2 separate regions of the Homo sapiens genome follow, and region 1 is linked to region 2. Evidence: fine-mapped expression QTL. A gene starts in region 2. The other region holds a variant in brackets. All regions are shown on one strand. Distances are between the middles of the regions.

Region 1 (8,334 bases), 78 kb before region 2:
AACCAATGTGTTTCTTAAATGTATTTGACTGATGTCTCATGCCTCCCTAAAATATATAAAACCAAGCTGTGCCCCAACCACCTTGGGCACATACTCTCAGGATCTCCTGAGGGCTGTGTCATGGGCCATGGTCACTCATATTTGGTTCAGAATAAATCTCTTCAAATATTGTAGAGTTTGACTCTTTTCATCAACACAATCTAGTTACATCTCAAAAACCTTAGATTTCAAGCCCAAGCAAGAGAGAGAAAGAAGATGAGAAAAAGAATCACAATGCCAGATATTTTATCTAGAAGTTTGGAGAAGTGAGTTGTTTTGCCCTCCGCTGAGAAGAGCAATATAAACACAAGAAACAATCACACCATTTTGTCCCTCAGTGCCTGTGATGCTTTATACAACGTATTTTCCCCTCTGATGTAGTTTCCAGCCAGCCAAACCTTTTTTAACATCACCCCCCATACCTTTTTAATGACAGGAAAAGAAAATGTGTTTCTATTGCAATTACTGGCTTAAAAAAAAAAAAGTATGGCCCCCAATTCCATAATGAGAGGAGCCTAATTAGCACCTTTTTCTCATGCAGCTGTGCCAATCCTTCCTCTACTTCTAACATTCTTGTTTTGTGAGTTTTATCACCATTGACTCTTGTTAATGGGCCACCTCTGGCTTCTCACCTAGTTTTACAGCTTTTCAACTCTTTCCTTACCTCATTTTAATTTCTGCAGCTTTAGTACCCCATGAATCATAGATTTTAGTCTTCTTGATACTGCCTCTTTAATTAAAAGTAGCCTGCCATTTCTCAAGGGTAACCAGATTGACCGTGATAACCTCTTGGCAGTCTCTGACCCAGATGGACTTGTTTATCTTGGGGTTCAGATGTCAATAATCAGCCCATTTCCTGTGGAGGTTGGGACAGCTTGGCTGCTCCTGGAGACCTGGATTCAAGACTGCAGATACCTTTGTTCAGCCTTTTCTCACTTTCCCCCCAAATGGAAATAGAGATGTTCTCAGCTTTGCTTGAACTCCACAAATATATCTGTACCTAACATGGGATTATACAAACCTTTTCATAGTTCTTTGCAGACAACAAAGAAAAACATGGCTTCTGAGATTATGATGTGTGAGACACCAATTTTTCTGTATAAGTAGTATTTTTAATTATAAAAGGAAGACATAATTATGGCAAAAAGAAATTCAAAGAGTAGAGAAGGGCTTCTAGTGCCTTCCCCAGAGATAATTATGGCTAATATTTTCTTATGGAATGTTGCAGGGATTTTCTAGGCATATAGAAGCATAGGGCTCTGTTATTCTCTCTCCCTATGTTCTTTACTTCCTTCCTGGCCTTTAACCACAGTTTAAATTATGCATTTATTTTTTAACTTCTTTTTTGCTTCCTCCTCATATTGTAAACTTCAAGACAGTAGGAACCTAGTCTATTTCATTCATTTATAGTATTGCCCAGACTCTAATTTAGTGCCTGTCGCATAATAGACACTCAGTAAATAATTTGACCATGAACACATGTGTGAAGACAAATCTTCAGAAAGAAAAGAAAAGAAAAATCCCTGGGAACAGAAACTGTGTGCATTGCCCTGCCTCAGTGTCCCAGAACTTTCCTACAAGATTTCAGTTACATCCATGATTAATCATTCCTTGCCCCATCCCTGAGAGACAGGTGGGAATGTTATTGTATTCGCTTTCCCAATGAGGCAGCTGAAACCACTCAGGCAAATGCAATTAACTCAAGGCCAATGTCAATATGGGTGATGAGTCAAACTAAAGATGGTGGCCCCAGGTTTCATATCCCACCTCTCACAACTCTGCCAAAGCTCACTCTAAATTCTCCGCCATTAAGTTTCAGATAATGGGAAGGAAGAACTTGGGGCTTAGATGGAGACAGACCTGGGTTTGAATTTGAACACAGCCAAATCATGACTCCTTGGGCCATGTTGACCAGATATCTAGTTTCTGAGCCTCTGTTTTCCCAGGTAGGAAATGATGTTGCTTACCTTTTAGAGTTGTAAGGGTTAAAAATGATGTCATAGTGTGTCTGGCACGTTGTAGGCACGTCAAAATATTAGTTTTATCCTCTCTTCCTTCCCAAAAGATTAAAGACGAGAGCTTTGGCAGCTGCAACTCCAGATGTTTGACTTCTTTTCAGACAGGTCTCATGAAAGGAAGATACACAATAACACACCCTAATTGTTCTCAAATTCTGTGAATGTATTTGCTGCTGCTTTGTGAATTTGTACGGCATTAATGCAAGGTCAGTCAGGGGATATTTGATCTTAGCAACTCCACCAAGGGCCAGCTGCTAGCCTCAGAACGCAGGGGTCAGACTATGCTGCAGGTAAAACTCTTAAGATTCCTCCAAGCCTGGAGCACATTCTGTGCAGACCGCAGCCCCCTTCCCCATCTACACTTAGACTTACTCACCCTGGGAGTTTGTATCGAGTGCCAAAAGGAGTTGTTGCTTTTCAACTTGAACTTCAGATAGAAGATCAGACATTAGGAAGGCAGCAGAACCTGCTTTAGAAAAGCAACTGGGCAACCACAGAACAGTCATCACAGGATAGTGGTGCAGAGCTGGGATGGGTGGGGTTGAAGCTATGGGAACCTTTTCTAATCTGAGTGATGACTAGGCTGTCTCAGTTAATCAACACGTAGGTAGTGAGTACCTGTTAGGTTCATAACCCTAAAGTAGGCTCAGGAGTCAAGGGAAGAATATAAAGAAAAATAAGGCAGTGTCTGCCCTGAGAGCCTTCCAGTTGAACTGGTTTGACTGCAGACCCTTACATGAATACCGAGTCTTACAAATCTCTACAAGAGGTAGCAGCCAGTAGGTAGGTGCACATCTCTGTATTGCTAAATTCCTTCCTTTTTCCCCAGGCTTGCACTAGAAAGGACACCAAAGTGCCCTTCTAATAGCTTCCCCTCTCTGGTTTTCCCAGAGGTTTCTGTTGTTCGCTCCCTCCTTTTAATGTCCTGTTTTTGTTTTTCTGGGAGAGACTCATATTTACTTTCCAAACTCTCCCTTGATATGTCTCATATTAGTGTTATCCAGGAGAAATCCTGGGCTGGTCCTAACCTCCTGTCTTGATCAGGTCTCCTATCTCTGTGGACCTTCACCTGTCTTTCCCAGACTGGGCCAGGCCTTGCCAATGATGTTGACCAGACACTGGGGGAGGGGACAGGAGGAGGAGCGGGAGAAAACTCCTTAGCTGAGAATCAGTCCCCATGCTAGTTCCTTTAGCACGGTCCAGTCACTTTGTCAAGAATAATAAAGCAACTTGAAAATATGCAGCTTCTGAAGACAGGAGGGTTCCCTGGAAGGCCAGCCACATGTCAGAGCCTTTTCTACTTGAGCTATGGCCACATATACATTTTTACTGTAGCTGAATACTTGAGGAGGTATTTTAAGGGGTGGGGGGGAATAAGAGTCCTAAGCCTAAGGAAATGGCACATTCAGGTTAGAGAGTAAATGTTTGGAGGCAGCCCAAAGTTCCTGAACAACTAATTAGTGGGAGAAGACAAGCAACTACAGCGCTGCCTCTCGTGTTGTTTGTTGAGCTCAGGTAGGGAGTAGGATGAAGGAGACCAAGCCAATGATTTATCAGACACTC[TGG/G]AGTCAGTAAGGCCCCAAATGACTGGGGAAATCAAGGTGCAATAGAGAAAGAGAAAGAGCTCCCCACTGAGACAGTCAGTTCCAATTTATGAAAGATCATTTTTGCCACAATCTTCTTGCCAGTTAACACCTATTAACACCAGGCATAAGGCGGGGGGATTGGAGGGAATTGACAAAAAGGAAGATATGGTTTGTTTGATGGGACATGAAGTGGAGAAGGGCTCCAAACACAAGGTGCTGTTGCTCACAGCCATAAGCAACATTAGTTGCCCCATCACCCTTTGGAAAGCAGTTTAAACGTGAGGTGGCATCTGCATTAAATAGAGTAGCTGCTACCCCTGACTAGTGACCTTCTACTTCCTTCATAGCACCATTCAGAGTCTATAAATGCTTTATTTATTCTATATTATTTGGCTCCCAACCCACCTCCATTAAAACTAGCAGCTGCTTCAGAGCAAAAGCCATGTCTGTCTTTTCTACCCCTGGATCCTTGGCACTGGAACAGTGCCTGGCACCTAGACAGCACTCAATGAACATTTGATGAATGAATCTTAAGAGTAGTTATAGGAACTGATTAAAAAATTTTCCAGGCCTCGCAAGGATTGCCTTTCACATACAAATTTGTTTTGTAAATCTGAATGGCAGCACTGCAGTAGGCCTGTGGATGAGGACACATGCTTCATGAAAGGGATCTTCTAGAGAAGGAAAGCTTTAAAAAAAAATGCCGAAGAACCACCAACCAGGTGGCCTGATGGTGCCTAAGGGGAGCGTGGTGAAATGCTAGTAGCTCATATAGGGGTGCAATGGAAGACTGGAAGAGGCAAGTGGATACTGACTGAGCCAGATACTGAAAATGCACAAAGCTTAGGCCCAGAGTCTAAGAGACACACTAGGAAAAAAACAGTATATCAAAGGCCCAGGAGGGAATAGGAAGAAAAGTATTTTCTTTGGGCAAATAGTAGGCAGTTGAGAGCCTGCCTGAGTGTTGGTATGAGGTAGCTCTGCTGACAGAAGCATCAATCACAGGTAAACTTAGCTTCTAAACATCTTAGACAGAAAACCTTTGCGTTGGCCTTTGAGGGACTCAGAATGGCCAGTGACTGGTGAGGTCGCAGGATGTAAAGACCACTGATTATCTTTTAAATATAAACCGTTAAAACTAAAGTTATCAGCTCCCTGATCTTATTTTGAAAACAGTTACAACACAGCCATGTTCATTTAATTATGAAAACAAAAGCTGCACAGGCTGCTCATTGATATGCATCATCTGCCCAGGGGTGCTGCGTTGGGCAGGTGTGTGTGGTCATCACTCCTCTGTGACAGTTTCCACTGCTGCTGAAGCCCTACGGGGGCTGACTCTGCCCGCCCCATTTTAAAGCCCCATGAGCTCCCAAAGTGTGTGGGGTGTGTGTGTATGTGCGGCATGGGGGCATGCTTTCCCTAGCTATATCTGAGTCTCAATTCCCATCTGTAAATTGGAGACAACAATGTCAACATTATAGAGTTAGTGTGAGGATTAAGAGATAACATAACAAAGTGCTTTGCACCCTATGTCATACCTAGACCACATATGAATAAATACTTGGTAGTGGCCGGGTGCAATGGCTCACGCCTATAATCCTAGCACTTTGGTAGGGTGAGGCAGAAGGATTGCTTGAGCTCAGGAGTTTGAGACCAGCCTGGGCAACATAGTGAGATCTCCTCTCTGCAAATAATTAACAAATTGGCTGGGCATGGTGGTGCATGCCTATGGTCCCAGTTAGTTGGGAGGCTGTGCTTGAGCCCAGGCATTAGAGGCTGCAGAGGGCAGTGACCGAACCACTGCACTCCAGCCTGGGTGATAGAGTGAGACCCCATCTATAAATAAATAGATAAATACATAAATTAATTAATTAATTAATAAGTAGTTGCTACCACAAGGAAGACAGACTAAGCACAACTTACTGATTTTTAATTCTTTTGTTCCATAACTGGAACTCAACCACTGCTAGTTAGAGTATAAAGCAGCATAACCACTTTGGAAAACTATTTGTCAATGTCTATGAAAGTCAAATATACCCCTGTCCTGTGACCCAACAATTCCACTCCTAGGTATATTCCCAAAAGAAGTGCTGTCCACCAAACCATGCACACAAACATTAAAAGCTGTATTGTTCACAATAGCCCCAAACTGGAAACAACCCAAATGTTTATCAAGTAAAATGGGTAAATTGCAGTGTATTCATATAAGGAAATATACATAACGATGAAAATGAGAAAATTATTGCAACTCAGAACAATATGGGTGATTTTCACAAGGATAATGTTGAGCAAAAGAAGCCAGACATGAAAAAGCTCACACTTGTATGATTCTATTTATAAGTCTCAAACCAAACTGATCTATAATACTAGGAGTGAGAAGAATGGTGACATTGTGGATTTCTGGGCTGGTGATAATGTTCTATGTCTTCATCTGCATGATGGTTACATGGATGTGCCACCTTATAAGAATTCATTGAAGTTATGAGTTGCATTTCTTTGTGTATGTATGTGGTATGTGGTAGCCTGCATTATTGCTCCTAATTCTTTGCTCTCTCTCCACTTTGGACGGAGTATGTTTCCCTGCTTAAAGTTGGGCTTGTCCATTTGACTTGCTTTGGCCAATGGGATATTAGTCAGTATGATGTGAGCAGAGACACGAAATGCGTTCAAGTAGTTTGGTTTTGCCCCCTTGGGTTTCTGCCATAGTCATAAGAATATACCCCAGAAAGCTGCTGCTTTCTTGGCCTGGTTTCCAGAATAATATATATGGAACAGACTGAGCCAGCCCTGGAAAAGTCAGACTGAGCCTTTTTAAGTTACAGCTGACCATGGTGGCAGTGGTGGGGGTGGCGGGAGGGTGTTGTCTCAAGCAACTGAATGTTGCTGTGTTTTGTTATGCAGCATTATTGAGGCAACAACTGACTAATACACTATTCATTTTTAAAATGTACTTGAAGCTATGTTCTATCTTCTTAATAGAAACCTTTTCTGATTTAAAGCTACCAATATCCTTCTACAACACTTATATGGCCTTATTCATGTAACTCAATCAAATGAACCTCAGTTTCCTTGTCTATAAAATGGGGATAATGCTTACTTCACAATGCTCTTAGGGGAACTTAAGGAGCCAGTAGACTTAAAAGCACTTTGTAAACTGCAAAACATAATTTTAAAGTGATGGATGGGGGGGCAGGAAATGAGGTGGGGAAACAAGTGTATGGATCATGCCATCCACCAGGCAAAGCTGCTTCCTCTTGACCACGGCTTATCCTGGCTCAGAGGGTAAGGGCACAAGTGTGGGAAGGAGACTAGAAGACAAATATCTGGGCCTGTGGTAGAGCAGTCATCAAGCTTTTGAACGTAGTTCTGTGGGTCCAGACTGTCTTGAGAGATGGCAATGATGATTAGGTCTCTAGAAGGCCACCTAATGCACAGGCAAAGTAGACAATACAGAACTCTATTAAGGACACCACAACCCTGAAGTCTACACCCCTCATTACCTTCTCCAGTGTCTGCAGGGCCACCATTAGTGTTTCATTTAAGTGGATTATGGTGCTGTGTGCCTAACTATCCCCTGTTAATCCTTACTGCCATTCTTATCTATATCCTAGTTTATAAGAGGAGGCTCATCTGTTCACTCATTTTGTATTATTTCCATTGTGTGGATAATGAACGTGAGATTCTGAGAGATTAAGTCATTTCTGAAAGGCCTTTAGTTAGTGAGCTTTAGAGATGAATTTGCAACAGGTTTTCTGACCAAAACTTAGAGAGGCAACTCACTGATATGAGCAAGAATTCCATCATTAGATAATGAGTTGTACTCTCAGAAAACAGGTGGCATTGGCCCGAGGGGACAGGACCAGTAAGTTTTTGGAACTGGGGACTAACCTGATTAAGCCTATCAAACTTAACCTGCATTGCTTGCTTTTAATCACTCACTTCTAGTTAATCTTAAAACCCATATAGCTGAAAGTCCCATAGCTAACCAATCCACTAGCTTTGTTACAGACTACATATCTGACATATAGATCACCACTGTAACAGTTGCTTAAAGTTGTTTTTCAGGAACTTGGGCTTAGCTCTTGTCCAGTTAAAGCCAGTTGAGATCACTGACCCTTCAACTGGGTTTGTAGAAATGCCCAAGAGGTGACCTTTTGAAGTCAGAAGGCCAAAACTCTTCCTGAAGATCATGCAAACACAGCCATTTTCTGAACATGAATCCTGTGAAGAGCCATGAACCATGACTATGCAAGCACAGACCACTGATTATCTCACTTTCCCCCACTGCCAATCATCTTTCCTCATGCCTTAGATTACCCGGCTTCTTTATCTCATAGATAGCCCTAAACCCTATCTTTGTGGAGGCAGATTTGGGATCTGTTCTTCTGCCTCCTCACTTGGCTGCCTCATGAATAAACTTTCTCTTTTGCAAAACCCATTGTCACAGTGATTGGTTTGCTGTGCACAGACAGAATGAACCTGGTTCAGTATAATTTTGACAGAAGAGATAGGAGAAAATGGGTATGGAGCCTAGGGTAAGCAGTGGATTTTGAAGGGGGTGGGGCATAGGGAAGATAAGGAAGTCAGAAGGAGGAACTGGGTGGAAGAGGAAGAGACTGCAGATGCCTGAGCCCTGCCTACTAAGAGCGCTCATTCTGGGCTGCCCCTCCTGTACCCATAAGAGGATCTTC
Region 2 (8,334 bases):
CAGCTAGCTTTTAAATTCTAGCCTACGTAACAGTCAAATCTAAAAAATTAATTCAATTCCATTGAGTAGTGGAGATGATCTCCAAAAACAGGAACCACAGGCTCAGGATCATTTTTTGAGTAAGAAGATGCAAGAAACCTTCTTCTTTGTGGAACTGGGAGAAAAACATGCCCCCTCCCTGCAGTGAAATTCAGAATTCATTCAACAAATATTTGCTGAACACCTGTCATGTGACACACCCTCAATCTGGATTGGGCTAAGAGAAACACAAGTGAGATTTAAAAGCAGATATGATTAAATGGGACTTTTCTTGGGCAGACATGTTTGTGGAGTTGAGGTTGTGGGTTCAGGGAGGCTACAGAAGAAATGGAATCGTTGGGTTGGGCCAGGTGTTTGAATGGAGTAGGGTAAAGTTGGGGAGAACTTTTTAAAGAGAAGTTGTGCGATCAGAAAGGCCGTTGGAAGAATTCAGGCTAAATTGATTCAAGTGGGAAAACCTCAGTAGCAAGTACTGCAAAGAAGAGGCAGAAGGGGCTCTAGGAAGAGCTGACAGGACGGAGGACAGGTTCAGACAGAGCATCCATTCATTCTGAAAACTTTTACAAGTCCCAGATGTGTTCAGCACAGAAGATGCAAAGATGAATTAGCTTCTCCCCTAGCCCTCAAAAGTCCTGAAGTAGCCAGGAGAAAAGGTGGCTTCAGTTTGACACCAAAGGAGAATCACTAAGGTCCCAGAAAGAAGGGATTCTTGGGAGCTGAGGGTAAAGTCTGTGAGTGGTTGAAGGAGTGTTCAGATGGGGATGATTCCCCTGAGAGTCTCATTTGACTCACGTGGCTGACTTCCAGAGACCTTCTCCAGCTCTAGAATTCTAGTAGTGAAGCCATTTTTGTTGATTTCACAGTCTGGACTCTCCTGAATCTACTGGCTCTTTCATTTACTCCTACCCACCTCTCCCATCAGAAAACAACTTCTGTAAACAGGAAAAAGTGGCATTCTGGCCTCCTATCACAACGCAGCCACTGGGGGCTGTTAGGTGTCCCCCAGCAGCTTGGGAGTAAAATCATGAGTAAAGCACTGGCAGGGGGTGGGTGAGGTGGAAGTGAGGGGGCAGAGAAGATGAAAGGAATACAGAATCCTGGCCAGTCTCCCAGGGTGGCTGAAACCCAGGAGATCTGTAGCTTTCACGGATGACCCATTCTGACTAAAGATGACCAGCTCCCAGTCTGAAAAACCCACAGAAGTCAAGCCATTCCCAAAGGCCCTAGGGAATGCCAGTACACCCCCAAAGAAGGCCTTGATTTAATCTTGGTCTTCAGAAATATCCCTCTCCCCTGAGGCTAACAGAAATTCCCAGGGAATTAAAATGACCCTGCCCATACAAGCGTCTTGCCAATTTCAGGGTGCTGTCCTGGGGCTGAAGTGGAGCTTCTCCTCTGGAGGATGCAGGCCTTCAGGACCACCTCTCTGGCAGGGCTGGCCCATGTTTGGCAGGGTACCATGAATGAGTGTGTCTGTCCCAGGCCCCACCTGTTGCAGTGACCAGATCTCATGATGGATGGGATATGAATTAGTATGGCAGAGTAATAAATCAAGGAGTGTCAGGAAAGTTGTGAGGAACATGTATGTACATATAGAGCCATCCCATAATAACTCTTTCATACCCATACATATGCATATACGCACATACACACACACACCATATACTCCCAGTCACCACGGCAACCATTTCTTAAAGCTGTACTTACGGGGTTTTGGTTGTTTTTTATTATTATTTTTTTCATGCTAGATCTTTTCACCCTTATTTCTTCGGAGTACATCTCTGGCCTTTGACTCTCTGCTGAGAAGTACCATACCTCCTTGGGAAACCCTGTCACATCTAACATTTACCAGGTCCCTCTAAAAGGCTCATATCTATCCTCATGCTGACACTGAATTCAGCCAACACACCATTTGGTGACTTGCTAAAAGCATTGGCAATACAAAATAACCATTCTGATTGCCACTGTGAGTCAGAAAAACTGGAGACAAATATAGTGTAATGTATTGTACAGCTTTCACAGACAGTCCTCAATTTTAAAATAAAACCAAGTCACAAAGTTAATGTGGAAAAGGAGCCAGCTTTGGTCCTTAAAAATGGAGAAACCTATTCTTGATTAAAGTGACAGCTCTATTTAGTAGGCATGGATTTAAGATTCTTAACCTTGTAAAAGTAATTCGCATTTCCTTCCTCTTCCATATGTTATACATTATGCTTCAAATTAACCCTATTTTCCATTTTAGATTTCATTATTCAAAAATGCCAATAATATCAGTGGGTGAAGAAACACTTAAAACATTTTTATCCAAATATTGACCTTGCTTTGGACAACATCCATGTAATAAGTAGTGAGATTTTTTCCTTTTAATGTCACCAATATGTTTATGATTAAAGGTCAGTCTGTGGCAACAGTTTGCATCTCTGCGCTATAATTACTTGTTCTGCTAAAAAATAAAAAAATAAAATAAAATAAAATCCTGACTTATGACCTGACCAGACAATTCTTTGCATCTCCTTTTATCAGATTTCTGCTGGATGAGGAATGACCTAGGCAAGAGTATTTAATTTATAGTCAAAATCCACATGTGTGCCCTGCCTCCTGCAAAGCATTGGGACACCATAGGGTAGGGAGAGAAGTCCTTTGCTATGGAACAACTGCTCCAAAAGTAACCTAAAGTGCAGAACTAGCGATGGGGCGGGGTGCATTTATTTTGACCTAAACTGGGATTCTGGTCTTTGAAGCCCGCGAGTGGGCTCATTTCCTAGAGGGAGAAAAGGGGAAGCGACAAGAAAGACTCCACCCAGGCGATCCCAGGCAGGCGCCTTGTGTATAAATCCAGGGAGAGAGGGGCACCAGGTGGCCAATGGATGAGAAGTCACCCGGCTGGGTACGCAGGTGGCCAGGGGATGGCAGATGGGCCAAAGCGGGGCGGAGGCGGCCCTGGGCGGATCAGGGGGTGGGTGGCTGAGGGATATGTGTGCGGAGGAGGTGGGCTGTCCTCCCACCCACCGGTCTCCCGACCAGCGAGCAAGCTTTGGACAAGGCCAAAGAGCATTGGGCTGCTGGAAGCTGGGGCATCGGCGCAGCCTTCGGTAAGGGGCTCTGGTCGACCCCACTCCCTGGGCTTGCATCTGTCCACTGATCAGTGGGCAGGTCCTGCCTCTGCTTCCTCCCAGCCACCCCCGCCGCGCCATCAATTCCTCAGGGAACCGGCTCCTCTCTCAGTGCCCGGGCCAAGGCGCCCGGGGTAGCGGGCGGGCGAGGGTCTGCAGGGGCCCGGCCACTTACCCGAGTGCAGGCCGCCCGCTTCGGGGCCGCTGTCCGGGGCGGCGGCGCTGGGCGGCGCGTCCGAGTCGGTGTAGGTGAGCCAGGTGGATTCTGTCTCCCGGGTCCAGCTCTCGTAGTAGCGGGGCTCGATGGCATCCGCCCGGCTCCCGCCGCAGCCCATCCTCCTGCGCCGCGGGAGCGCCCAGCGGCTGCTCGGCTGTCGGCTCTGGCGGCGGCTCAGCCCCGGAGGCGCAGCCCCGGCCCGCAAGGAGGCGGCGGCGGCGACATCGCGTCCCCGCTCCCGCCCGCGCTGCAGCCGCGCGGAGCTCCTGCGGTGCCCGCCGCCCCTAGTCCGGGCCCTCTCCCAGCCCGTCCCTCCTCTCCGCCTCCAAGGCCCTCCCTCCCCTCCGGTCCCCACCGCCCAGTCCTCCCTCCCAGCGCCCTGGCCGCCCCAAGGCCCCCGCTCGCCCGCCCCCTCCCTCAGGGCTCCGTGACGGCCCGGGAGCAGGAGCAGCGGCCCCGCAGCCGGAGGAGGGCTGGGGCTCCCGAGGCGCTCGGACCCGTCTGGCCGGCATTACCGTTCCCAGTCTCTGGCCCATCTATCCATCCATCCATCCATCCATCCATCCATCCGCTCACCCGCTCATTCATTCATCCATCCATCCATCCTTCCTTCCTTCTTTCCATCCATCCTGGAAAGAACTGAAACTCTTATCACGGGACCCCAGGCTTTCTGGCCACCTGTTACAAAAGCAATGGAACTGGGAGCAACCCCGCAAAACTGGTCAGGGAGTATTGCCACTAAGACTTAAGGAACAGTCAGAGCCTATGCCTGTCGTATCTGATTTGGGGAGGCAGGAGTAGGGCTATGATTTTTAAGAGAGTTAGGCTAGGCAGTGTCACTTACACCCCTTCCAGCTGTGGTACTTCATGATCCTCTGAACTTTAAACTCGAGAAAGCAATAGATCACCTGGAACCACGCAGCATCCTGAACCCCCTCTCTGGGCAAGGCTTGGAGGCATGGCCGGTCCCTTCAAGCCCAGGGTGGCCTTGACATTCCCGGGATCCAGTTGTCAGCCTTTCTTTTCTCGGTGCACCCTCAGGTCCATGCGGGTTCAGACCTAGAGCTCAGACTTGCGTAGGCCAATGAATTTACCTGTTCCAAGAATCCAGAACAGGTGGTGAAAGATGAAAATCTTCTTAGCCTTCAAGAGGGGGGTAGGAAAGGGAAGGGTTTGGAAGAATAACTCTTCAATGACCAAGCTCTGCTAGAATATGGTATTAAGTATCATATTCATTCATTCATTCATTCAATGTATATTTACTAAATTCCTATTGTGGCAAAAGACTGTTCTAGTAGACATAATACATATATAATATATTTTGTATATTATCCATTGTATGTAGACTATAGGGTGTGATGTTTAATATAGCATGTAAAGCATAGAGAATATAGTACTCATTATATCCTATATAATTTATAGAATGTACGAGAGTACATTGTCTATAACATTTAGCACGTAGCATCCAATAGGTAGGGCAAGTTCAGAGCATTGCCTGGCACAGAGTAGGCCCTCAGTAAATGTCCAGTGAATTAATAATGAAGTATCTTTTTATAGTAATTTGATTCACTTAAATTATTGTAATTTGGGCTAAAGATGATCCAGTTGAGGGTAGAGCTGTCAGACATTCCTCTGGCAGGCACTCACCAGAATCCATAATGTGGAAGGGAGCAAAGATTCATGGAACTGTGGCCAGGGTCTCCTCCTCCTCATGCTGAGCGCAGCACCCGTTCGCACCCCAGGACTCAGGCTGGCCTCCTCTGCAGGCTTTGCTTCTCCTTTTGAGATGGCCTTGACAGGACTCTTCAACCTTGTTTTAGGTGTAAGGTGGAGGGAGTGCAGTTATCCGGGAAGTGGTGGCTTCCCTAGTCCTTTGGAATTCAGATGCCCTGTGCCTCTTTTCCTTCCCCCCTGAATATTTTGATTTCAGAAGAACCAGCTTTCAGGGAGAGAGAATACTTAACATCTCTAGCAGAGCCTGTGCTTTCCTCAGTTCTACGGCACAGTGCTCCTTTCATAACCAGCCACTTCGTGATGTCACCACCCAAAGAGCAGACAGACCAGAAAGAGTGTCTGAGTTAGACCGTCCTGGGGGAGTTCTAGAAAACGAAAGAAACTGAAAGAGCTAGAGCTTGGTGAGCACAGGAAACAGAGTAAACGTGAGGTGAAGTGGAGGGGTATCCTGGGGCCAAATAGAAACCCACATGCCCATATGTCTAAATTGTAAAAGCTATAAACCAAGTGAGCAAGTTTAATTGAAACATGGGCTGTCCTCATACCTTGACAAGTTATCTTCATAAAAACTTAAAAGGCCAGGTTCTAATGTAGAGTTCTCTCAGTCTTTGGAGTTCTGCACTGAACATGGCAGTGGGATTGTGGGTGGAATTGACCCACCCACTCCTCTTTCTATCCTCAGTTCAGTCCTGCTACACACGGGTCCTTGTGGGCCCATGGGTCTAAGGTCTGTCCATACTCCCCTCCCACAAATAGCTGCCCTTGGCCATCCCTCTGGCTGAGGAGCATGTGCCTGGGGGATGTGGTCTGCCCTCATGGGGTTTGCTTCCAGTACAAGCCCTGGAAGTAGGCTCAGTGGGTTTGGAGAAGAGAGTTGCAAGGTCTCAACTACCCAACAGGGAGGTTAGAAGGGGCTGAGACTCAGGCTCCAGGTACGTGCATTCTGTGATCCCTGGATTCCTTGGCCATAGAGAGGACCAGGGCTGGAGAACCAGAGTGGGACCTCTGGGGCAGGAGCCCAGAGCAGGGACCCCTCTTGCCAGGCCCTGTCTACTTACTTGAATGGAATTATGAACATTTCCAGAATACAGGAGATGGTTATCAAGTACTGCCTGGCTAAGGTTGAGTGTGGTCACTCATTTCACACACATTTCTGATCATCTATTGTGTATAGTTTAAGCTTCTTAAAGACAAAGATATGGTGACATGCTTGGAATCTTCAAAAGGGATTAACTTAATGCCTTCATAGAGTCAGTGCTCATCAAATGTTTGCCTAATGAATGAATAGCAAAAGACAAGGTGGGGATACAGTTAACAGTGCAATTTCAAGAGCCTGACTCTCTGAGTTTAAAGTTTGGCTCTGCTACTTAAGTGGATGGTCTTGGGCAAGCTACTTAACCTCTTTATGCCTCAACTGCATCGTCTGTAAATTGGAATAATAAATTGTGTCAGTATGTGTAAAGGGCCTCAAAGAGTGCCTGGCACATAGAAACACTCCATGAATGTTGCTATCACAACACTTTTGGGGCAACAAGCAACAATGTCATCTCTCTTCCTTAAGAGGGAAATCCCTGAAATTATTATGTCTTTTCACATGAGATAATGTTTGTGAATTTGCTTAGCACACTGCAGAAGTTTGGTAAATAGGTAGGTTTTTTTCTTTTCTTTCCTTTCTTTTTCCTTCCGTTATGATGTTACTGCTAACAACCTTCCTGCAAATAAATTTTTTTACCCCCATTTCTAAGTAATCATCATCGACAGAGCAGTTAGATTTTTTCATGGAATCTCTTTCTTGGCATTACGTAACACCATTGATTCAGAGAAATTCAGAAGCCAGAAAAAGTTAAAGAGCAGCCAATCCAGTCCTTTTATTTTACCAACTAGGAAATCGTAGCTCAGAAAGCTGTAAAATTGCCCAAGGTCACACAGGAAATGTTATCTCTGGCAGAGCTGAAGTTTCAGCCAGAGCTGGGGGCCTGTGGCTGCTGGCTCCGTGCTCTTTTAATTACAGCTCTTTAGTTGGGATTGAATTTTCTCCTAAACCTTCAGGAATAAATGTCATAAATTAAATGTAAATATGTAAAATGTAATACATTATCTTAAACCCTCTGTTCAGAATCTGTAGCTTGACTGGCATGAATTGGTTATCTTTTTCCATCAAGTTTGAAAGCAACAAAAAAAGAATTCTCCTAAGGAGAAATGCTGCAACAGGGCATTGGAAAGCCTGAGCCAAAGCCATCCAGAGCAATGAAATAAATTACACCTGTAAAAACTACTGCAGAGTGGTATTTGCTATATGATGGGATTCTCAAAATAAATTCTCTCTGGCTTTAAGAACCCCTGTGACTGGTACCACCTCTGGCTCATTTCTATGGAAACTGAAGCAAAGGCCTGTAGTGCTTCTCCCTCCAAGGTCTCATTTCTGTGGCTTGGCATCACTGGACTCTACCCGACTATTGTGAGCTGTAGAAAACAGACCTTCAGTAAGGCGGACAATCAGGACAGAACAGAAGGGTTAGCAGGAACCTAAACCTGCCTTTAGAATCAGCCATCTGAAAAGGAGTAAAGATAGATTCACTGCCTTACAAGTTTCCATCTCTTTCCAAGTGAAAAAGTAGCATAATTGAAGAACAACAGTAGCAATAATTCTGGCCAACAGGGTACAGATCCTAGGTAAATCTCTTTGGTCTTGAATGCCAAATCTCAGCAAGTTTCCCCACTGCTACAGATTCAGTGAACATACCAGAACCAGAGCTCCGTGCCCACCCTCTGAAGGATTTTAAAGCAGTTTCCACAGAGCACCCCTCCAGGTCCTCGATCTTGGCTAGTTGACACATCCTCATTGATCCACAAATTGTCATTTAGATGTAAAGGAAGAGGGCTCAAAGTTAGCACCCAAAAGCACAAGATCCAATTTCGTTCCCCACATCTGGAGAAAAAAATCAGAAAATATCATTTGACATGAGCTCATTCTTGCATCTGTTGCCTTGAAGAATGACTGCTTTCCCCAGGGCATGAATGGTACACCTGGAATCCAGGTGATGTGGACAGATCGGGTAAACATCATTACAGAGTATAAACAAGAAAGGAAAGCAAATATTACAACAGCAAGAAGATAAGTGAGTTTTTTATTTGGTTTAAGAGGTTAGAAAAGGTGAAAAAGGGAATGTTGCAGAAAAACAACAAAAGGAAGTAATTGAATATGTTACAACAAAACATTTATATAGAAAA

Evidence for each region. PIP is the estimated chance that this variant, and not a neighbour inherited with it, causes the effect.
Region 1: its variant is the best candidate, but not a certain one, in a credible set for the expression of BAALC in nasal epithelium (TOPMed, PIP 0.50).

The regions. Positions count from the first base shown.
Region 1 is chr8:103,213,654-103,221,987 of GRCh38, reverse strand. The region is part of intron 2 of BAALC (BAALC binder of MAP3K1 and KLF4); the gene reads right to left. Among named protein-coding and RNA genes, the nearest start is that of BAALC-AS1, 46 kb to the right of the region's middle. The variant TGG/G (reference allele first, on the strand shown) is at 3,621.
Region 2 is chr8:103,136,051-103,144,384 of GRCh38, reverse strand. It overlaps BAALC (BAALC binder of MAP3K1 and KLF4), which reads right to left and starts at 3,660. Exons shown (of 3, transcript NM_024812.3): 1 at 3,328-3,660. The coding sequence starts at 3,487. LINC01181 (long intergenic non-protein coding RNA 1181) reads right to left here. Exons shown (of 6, transcript NR_145429.1): 4 at 7,847-8,032; 5 at 5,017-5,179; 6 at 4,030-4,512. It overlaps BAALC-AS2 (BAALC antisense RNA 2), which reads left to right and starts at 3,043. Exons shown (of 2, transcript NR_027071.1): 1 at 3,043-3,131. RefSeq lists a silencer at 3,435-3,624.